Linked DNA regions of Homo sapiens: all the other regions are linked to region 1. Evidence: fine-mapped expression QTL. A gene starts in region 1. Each other region holds a variant in brackets. All regions are shown on one strand. Distances are between the middles of the regions. Region 1 holds the start of ABITRAM (actin binding transcription modulator). Region 2 overlaps ELP1 (elongator acetyltransferase complex subunit 1). Region 3 overlaps TMEM245 (transmembrane protein 245).

Region 1 (2,854 bases):
CAAAGGTCAATCGTGGATTCTCTCTTAATTTCCTGATAACTGCTTCATTTTCTTCCCTTGCTCCTTCGACTATCCACCTCTTGGCTAGACATCACATGCATGATTACATATACCAGGTAGATCACCAATACGCTGATTAGGCCTAAATGCCTAGCCCTGACTGAATTAGCCCAAACTTACCACTAAACCCACATTTTCAACCTCCTGATAGAATCACAAGCATGTCTCACATGCACATCAAATGCGACCTGGAAAGCAAAGAACTTGCTATTCTTCCCCCAAATGACAGTTCCCACTATTTGGGGACAGACCATTTCTACTCTATGTCCCCAAGCTGAAAAACTGTCTTTGCTGCCTTTTTGCTTACTCTTCATACGGATCTATTCATTGATTAGTTCCGTGGCTGTCAATATACAGTTGAATTCTTTACGATCCGGTTTGTGGCCTACATCCAACACCGACTGAGCACTTGCTAAGTACTGGGATCTGAAGATTACTCAGCCACTGTCTCCACGGAGATCATCGTTAACGGGAGAGAAAGCCACGTAAAACACCACGTTAGATGGAGAAGCACAGAGGACACCACCTCCACGAAAAAGTCTCACACGCGAGAAAGGACCCGCACCACAGCACCCGAGCCTCTATTAACCGCCGCCTTCCATCGTGAATTAATACTCTCGCTTTCAGCGTTATTATCAACCCCCTGCAAGCAATCAAGAGGCTGGGTTAAGTCCGGCTGGAGGGGCAGCAGGCATCCCTGGGCTGTCGCGCCTCCCAGCGCCCCCGATGGAGCAGGTGGCAAGGCTGCAAAAAGAATTTAAGGCTCTAGGAAAGAGGTGGTGCAGCCCGCACTCCAGTCCCCGGCCCGCAGCAGGCAGAGGAGGCTCCGGGTCTCCTTCACCCGGACACCGCCGGCGGAGAGGTCCACTCCCGTGCCCCTACCCTGGATGGATCGCTTACCTGAGGACCCCCAAACAGAGGTGCGTCCGGCCTCGCCTCCCCAGCCACGCGCAGCCGGCTACCCAGAGTCAGCTCCCACAGTCCGCACCCAGAGTCGGCTCCGAATTGCGCACGCGTCTCTGTCCGCGGCTCCCGCTCTCTCTCCGACGGCACTAGGCCTCCAAGGATGGAGGCGCCCTCCAGGGGAAAACGCTGAAGCGCTGCAAAGAAGCCAGCGACTCAATGGGTGCGTCAACTAGGCAGCCGCAGCACTGGGAGTGCGGCGCGGGAGTGACGTCACCAGGCGGAGGGGGCGAGGCCGGGCCCGCTTCTGGTCACTTACGGCGGCCGGCCTTCTTTGTAGGCCTGGCACCGTAGAGGTAGAGGAGCTACATTGGCCGCGTCCCCTGTCCCTCTGCCCTCTTGCCCATCTGCCCAAACTTTTGTATTTGATCTCTGTTTTGATGTCGAACCCCAAAGCACTGTAATTGGGGGGGGCGGGGGGGGGGGTGGAACCTGCGGACCTGAGAGCAGCGCGCGTGCGCACGACACGCGCTGTGCGCCGGAAGAGCACGCCCAGTCCGGGCTGCGCGGAGGAAGCGCTGGGGTCCCGGAGGGCGGGGGTGGCGGCGCCGGAGGTCGCCATGGCTACCGAGCCCGAAGCCGCGGAGCCGGTGGTGCCTTCGCTCGTGGATCGATACTTCACTCGCTGGTACAAACCGGGTAAGTGCGGAGTGATGTTGATCCCTCCTTGGCCGCACTGGCCTAATGCTGTGTAGACTATGTTGACAGATCATAAGCCACGCGCGCTCTCCCTGGCTCTCCGTCCCCACGTCAGAAGGCACTGGACTTCTGTGTTCCGTCTAGCCCCAGGGAATGGCATTTGCAAAGACCTGGTGGCCTGAAATACTTCAGGGCGCATTCTGGGGCCGGCGATTGCAGTGCGAGCTCTAGGGTGTTGCTCGCAGTAAGATGAGTACTCTAAACGGAGGCCCCAAAGGTAGGCGGAGGGCTAGGTTGCAACAGTCCTTAAGTGCCTGGAGGGATTGAGGGGCTCACTCTCACAGGGAGTAGCGATACATAAAATTATTTAAATGATCAGATCGAAACTAAGGTAGAGGCAGTAGGGATGGCGAGAAGAGGGTGGGTTAGATTAGAGACATTTAGAAAGAAGAAGAATCTATACATTTACCTTAAGAGACGCCATCTGCCACTTAGAAGTAGGTATTCTTTTTGTACTGTTTTGTGTAAGCAGAACCAGTGGTGGGAGCATCGTTGGGGACTCTCCTTTCTTCCTTTCATTCAGTGATAATGGTTATACTCAGTTTAAAAAATATATATTGTAGCATATTTTCTGTTGGCCAAACATAGGGTGACCAACCTGTCCTAGTTCACCCATGACTGAGGGGTTTCCCAGAATGTCGGACTTGCACCAACATCAGGACAGTCCTGGAAACCACCAACAAAAAATATATATCATAAAGAACGGGATGCTAATTGCATTTTCCTAGCAAAAATACTACGTGTACTCATTTTGAAGTGAGTGTAAAGTAAGATGGAGCAAGGAGTTAATTACCTTAATGTTGAATAAATTATTCTATCTGGGCCAGATCTCTTTAAATACTTTCTAGGAAACCTTTAGGTATGTCTTTTTGAGTAATGAAGGGATACCCGTGATCAGCATGCAGCATGTATGTGTCCAGTCTTCATTATCAACTATATGACCCAAAGAAAGTACCACATAGTGGTAGTAAATATTGATTTCAGCCACCAACAGACTCATGTATTCTTCTAGATGTCAAAGGAAAATTTTGTGAGGACCACTGTATACTACAGCACTCTAACCGGTAAGCAAATTGGGAATTTTAAATTATCAAAAATTTTTTTTTCCTGGTATTGTAGCCTGGTATGGTCT
Region 2 (2,500 bases), 23 kb before region 1:
TTCTTGTTCAAACAAATTACAAAACCTCTGACACTGTGTTCCCTCATCTACAAAAGAGGAAAACCCCATCTCTGACACAGCTCCTAGGAGGGATGAGATCAACTGAAAATATGTGTAAAGGCTATGAAAAGAGTAAAACATGTTAACAATGTATAACATACTATGTTATTTCCAGAGTCCAATGTTATTCTTAAATAACTGACTCTTCAAGTCAGTAAGGGAAAAGGAATGGCTCGTACAAACCAGTATAGGATTAAAAAAAAAAAAAACAAAAACCCAAGGCAATTAAATATCATAATGATAATGATATCAACTGCAGACTTAAAAATTTTGAGAAACACTAGACCTATGGCAACACCAAACTATAATTTGCTTTTATGTAGGAGTAGAAGGGACTTGATTCAGAACATCTTGGCAAAAGTTTTATAACATACCACATTTATAAACAGAAATCTGGTTACTGGCATCTAGAACAGCAAGGTCATTACTCTTTTGAGGGTGTGCTAAGAATGTGACTTGATTCACAGGGTGTGGGAACAGCAGTTGGTAGGTGCACATGGGAGGCGGAACCACAGTCTGCCGGAAGACTGTCACCAACACCCTGTCTGCAGTGAAAAAGAAAGAAGAGGATTAGACCTAGGGATATTCAATTTGTAAGATAAGCCATCTGAACATCACAGTATATCTAAACAATAATGGCAATTCACAAAAAAATAACTTTCAATGTTTTTCTCAGGAACAAGTCTAAAAACAGTGTGGGATGGGGAAATGTCATGGGTTCTGTCCATAATTGGCTATTGTCACCTCTAGGCCTAGGGGAGTCCATCTCAGTACCTGGAGTTTCAGGTGCCAGGGACTAAGGCAAAAAGGCCAAGAGGTCAGACCTCTAGCTTTAAACCTGGGCCTGCAACCAAGCCACACTAAACCAAGGGAATTAATACTTTCAAAATCCTTAAAGCACTTTCCTATGTGTGGATTTGGTAATAAC[G/A]CAGATCTGATTAAGTTCTCTATATAGAATACATGACTATAAAATCAGTATTATGTAGAATATTACACAGAATATGAATTAATATACCACCTCACATTACAATCTTAGAAGCCAGTGCTCCCTTTCATATCAGCAATGAAACTATTCATTAAGGTGACTACTTCACTCTTCAGTCTTGCCCTTCCCACCCCACCCCCTAAAAAAACCTTCTACCTCATTATAAAATATAAACCTAATCTTCATATTAGGCAAACGTTTATGCATGAACTGAACATACTGGAGAGGTATATATCAGCAAGCATTTGTATCAGGAAACAAAGCAACACAAGTGGGGTGGTATAAGGGTCAATTATAAATCTGTGTCAGGGCAAACAGATAAAGCTAACACACCCAATCCCACAAGACTGTACTGTTGTCATCCTCTCTACCTAGAGTCAAAGTTTTCAGTGTCTTCAAAGGCCAGGCAAGTAAACGTGTGAAGGCCACAGATGCAGTATAACAGGAAACTGGTGGGGGAGGGGGGACAATGGTTCTCAGGAGAGAACATACCCCACCTTATATCCCATTCAATAAAAAAACAAGTAACCCAAACAGCCAAAACAAATAAAGATTCCCCACTGTTCCAGTCAAACCACCACATCTGCAGGCCCTAGGCTCAGGACCCCTTGCAGGCTCATGGACACACTTCCCAGGAGCTTACTTCCATCAATGACAGCCACATTGGACAAGTCACTTGAATTATCTCCCACGCTCCGGTCAGTCGTCCAGTGCCAATCATAGGCGAGGTAATGCCAGCCCTGACAGAGAACATGCAGCCGGTATGGGGTCACAGGGTCCCACATCAGAGACACAATCTTGCTCTTCCCACAGGTGCTGAAGGATAAACTTTGCTTGAGATACCAGTGATAGTTTCCAACAGTCCAGAGCTGAACTGCAAGGGAAAATGAAAAGAAGGCCGTTAGAGGCTGGGAAGCAGACTTCATCCCACTTGCCAGAGGGGTTCAAGGGCAATCTTTTCTTTTTCAAAGGACCCTTCCTGCTCAGCCTCGTCTCTAAAATAAGAACAATAATAACTGCCAAAAAATAGCTTTCCATGCAGATAAAATATCAAGAATCAATAAGGTCAGAAATATATGTTTATTTTCTTGTTTTTTTTCTATTTTTAACTTTTATTCATATGTTTATTTTCGTTTTTTTTTTTTTTTTATTGACACAGAGTCTCGCTCTGCCGGCCAGGCTGGAGTGCAGTGGCGCAATCTCGGCTCACTGCAAGCTCCATCTCCCGGGTTCATGCCATTCTCCTGCCTCAGCCTCTCGAGTAGCTAGGACTACAGGCGCCCACCACCACACCCGGCTAATTTTTTTTTTTTGTATTTTTAGTAGAAACATGGTTTCACCGTGTTAGCCAGGATGGTCTTGATCTCCTGACCTTGTGATCCGCCTGCCTCGGCCTCCCAAAGTGCTGAGATTACAGGCCTGAGCCACCGTGCCTGGCCCACATGTTTATTTTCA
Region 3 (2,854 bases), 86 kb after region 1:
TAGTCAAAAGATCTCATGGTAGCCTTTTCTAAATGAAATTTTTCTTAAGTAGTGTAAGAATAAATTTAAACTAATTATAATTATCAGTGACTTCTTAGGGAGATGTTTTAGGAAAAATTATTAATATTTCTACCTTTAAATACTTTCCAAAAAGGAAATCTTCAACGCTTAAGAACTACCCCCCAACACTTTTTTTTTTCCTTGGGACAGTGTCTCACTCTCTCACCCAGGCTGGAGTGCAGTGGCGCCATCTTGGCTCACTGCAGCCTCGACCTCCTGGACTCAGGTGATCCTCATACATCAGCCTCCTGAGTAGCTCAGACTATAGCCACACCACCGTGCCCAGCTAATTTTTTTTTTTTTTTTTTTTTTTTTGTAGAGATGGGGTTTTGCCATGTTGCCTAGGCTGATCTCAAATCCCTGGGCTCAAGCAATCCACCCACCTCAGCCTTCCAAAGTGCTGGGATTACAGATGTGAGCCACCACCTACAGCCTGGCCAAGAACCCTTTTCTCTCCCACATTCCCCTGGGAGCAGAGGATAGGCCTGATGATTGTTTTAAACAGTAGAAAGGGTTCAGCTAAGAACTACAGTCCACTCTCAGCCCTGTCATGTACTATAGGACAAGTCTTCATTCACAACAAATGGATAGCAACACCAATCTCGTAACACTGGGAAAACTGCATACAATATTTAGAAGGAACACTAATACAGCAGAATCTGCACACAACGGAGTCAAAGATCTGAGGCCAAATCCTACTACACTTTACGACTTTGAGTTGGTCACTTTTCTGAACCTTAGCTTCTCCATCAGTGTAAAACTGATGTAAAATAATATAAAGCTATATGAAAGCTGATGTGATGTACTTGTGAAATAGTATGTGCAAAAGGACTTTGTAAAATGTAAAGCACTATGCTGGTTATTGTGATATCTGAGATATTTTTAAAGTTGCAATTCAATTCAACAAGCATTCATTTAGAGTCATGTGCAAGGCACTGTGCTAAGAGATGGGAAAATACTACATAAATACAAAATTCTGCTGAAAACTAACTTATTGGCAGAGTTCCAAATAATGAAACGGATACATTTAACAAATCAGAGTATTGCTACACCTGAGATTTTTCACTTCAACCACCTGGAAGGAGAAAACCTAATAACAGCATGAATTTTATCATACTGTTACCATTCATAGCAGCTTAATAAGTATTTCACTTCAACGTGGTCAGCCAAGTTTTATAATTTGGCAATAGTGTAAAGAAGCGTGAAGAGAAAAGGAAGAGGAGGAAGA[G/A]CTTCAGTCTTTGTATCTCCCAGGGTTATAATATAAAACTGAACATCAAATAAGCCACCCCACCCTTATACTTATGATTTATTATTTCTTAAAGAGCGTATAATACATTGTGGGAGAAGGGTAGAAGATTCATTTTTCCTGCTCACTCAACTACACACTCAAAAGTGAAAGCCCTCTTCCTTGAAAAGTGACTGTCTTAGAAAAGTTTAACAATACATTTCTTAAACCAGGAAAAAATTACACCATCTATTCTTTTAACAGCAGGTAGTTTAGAGTTCTTAAAATAACTTTATAAATATATAATATAGTAACATAGATAACCAAAGTGGAAAAATTTCAAGCCAGGGTACCAGTGTATAAAATGAAACTTTTCAAGCCATCTTAACAACAGTTAAGTGAGCAAACCACCAACTCTGAACTCTCAAGCTGTGTTTTAAAATACAAAGCAGCCCGCAGCAAGTTCTCTCTTGTCCAGGCATTCTGTATGTAAGGCCAGGAGGCTTCTGCTTCTTTCCTGGGTTTTGCTTGCTAGGCACAGCTGGAAGGGCAGAGGGCCACAGCTGAGCTGAACTCGCTGTCAAATTTGAACTTCCTAGAAAAATCACTGCAGAGGAAACCACATCAACCTACTGAAGATTTCAGATCTTCAGAAATGTCACGGAAAGTCCTAAAAGAAAAAAAGACGGAATGATTAGTTGATTACCATAAAACAGTATCCTATTTTTACAATCTTTTGGAGCCCTAATGAGATTATATAGTCACTATTTTTTCTTAAGATTTTCATTGAGTATTGTTTCAAAGTCTGCTAGTTGTTGCTCATTCTCATTAACAAGAACTCCATCTTTTTGCTGGATCTATCCAAAGGACTGTTTCCCCAGACTCCCCTGAAACTACACATGACCACGTGACTACGCTTTGGTTAATGAGATTTAAGTAGAAGTGTTGTGCAACTTCTGGGCAGTTCCTTAAAAGAGAAGAGCAATCTTCTTCAGCTCTTCCACCTTGTTACTGGCTGGAAGTGGATATGATGATTGATGTTAAAGAGGAAAAACCACTAAGAGACCAAAGATTAAATGCTAAGTGGATACATTTTATTACAAAATAGAAATCGTAATCCAACAGAGAGTCCAAGCTCTAAGGGATGTGGTTCAGTGCAGGAAAAATGGGTTAGGTCTTTTCATCAAGTGACCTTGTACTTGAACTGTTTCTGACCCACATTAAACAAGCTAAGCGAACAATGTTATTGGCGGGTAATATCTGGGCTGGATGAAGGTGGCTGAGCACCGTGCCTGACTGCTGCATACATGAAGTGTCTATCTCAGTACTGTAGTAGCTAGCTTGCTTTTGCTACATAATTTACATGTCTGAGCTGAGATAAATCACCTGGCTAAATTTACATCTGTGCTGGCAGCCAAATGGCCAGGTCAGAATTTATCAATGAACATGAGCTCAAGCACCCATATTAGACAAAAATGCCTCACACCAAGGCTGGCAGTACATCAGGATGGAGAGAGGCTGGGACCAGATGTTTATGCAACAGTGATACAGATATAAAGCACAGTCTAT

The links. PIP is the estimated chance that this variant, and not a neighbour inherited with it, causes the effect.
Region 2: its variant is fine-mapped to the expression of ABITRAM in whole blood (TOPMed, PIP 0.98).
Region 3: its variant is fine-mapped to the expression of ABITRAM in whole blood (TOPMed, PIP 0.97).

Annotation. Positions count from the first base shown.
Region 1 is chr9:108,932,904-108,935,757 of GRCh38, forward strand. ABITRAM (actin binding transcription modulator) reads left to right here and starts at 1,497. Exons shown (of 6, transcript NM_017832.4): 1 at 1,497-1,662; 2 at 2,735-2,786. The coding sequence starts at 1,584. It overlaps ELP1 (elongator acetyltransferase complex subunit 1), which reads right to left and starts at 1,221. Exons shown (of 37, transcript NM_003640.5): 1 at 961-1,221. RefSeq lists an enhancer at 464-693 and a silencer at 1,444-1,723.
Region 2 is chr9:108,910,576-108,913,075 of GRCh38, forward strand. It overlaps ELP1 (elongator acetyltransferase complex subunit 1), which reads right to left. Exons shown (of 37, transcript NM_003640.5): 11 at 1,689-1,919; 12 at 435-605. Among named protein-coding and RNA genes, the nearest start is that of ELP1, 22 kb to the right of the region's middle. The variant G/A (reference allele first, on the strand shown) is at 989.
Region 3 is chr9:109,018,551-109,021,404 of GRCh38, forward strand. TMEM245 (transmembrane protein 245) reads right to left here. Exons shown (of 18, transcript NM_032012.4): 18 at 1-1,955. The coding sequence ends at 1,910. Among named protein-coding and RNA genes, the nearest start is that of CTNNAL1, 6.5 kb to the left of the region's middle. The variant G/A (reference allele first, on the strand shown) is at 1,289.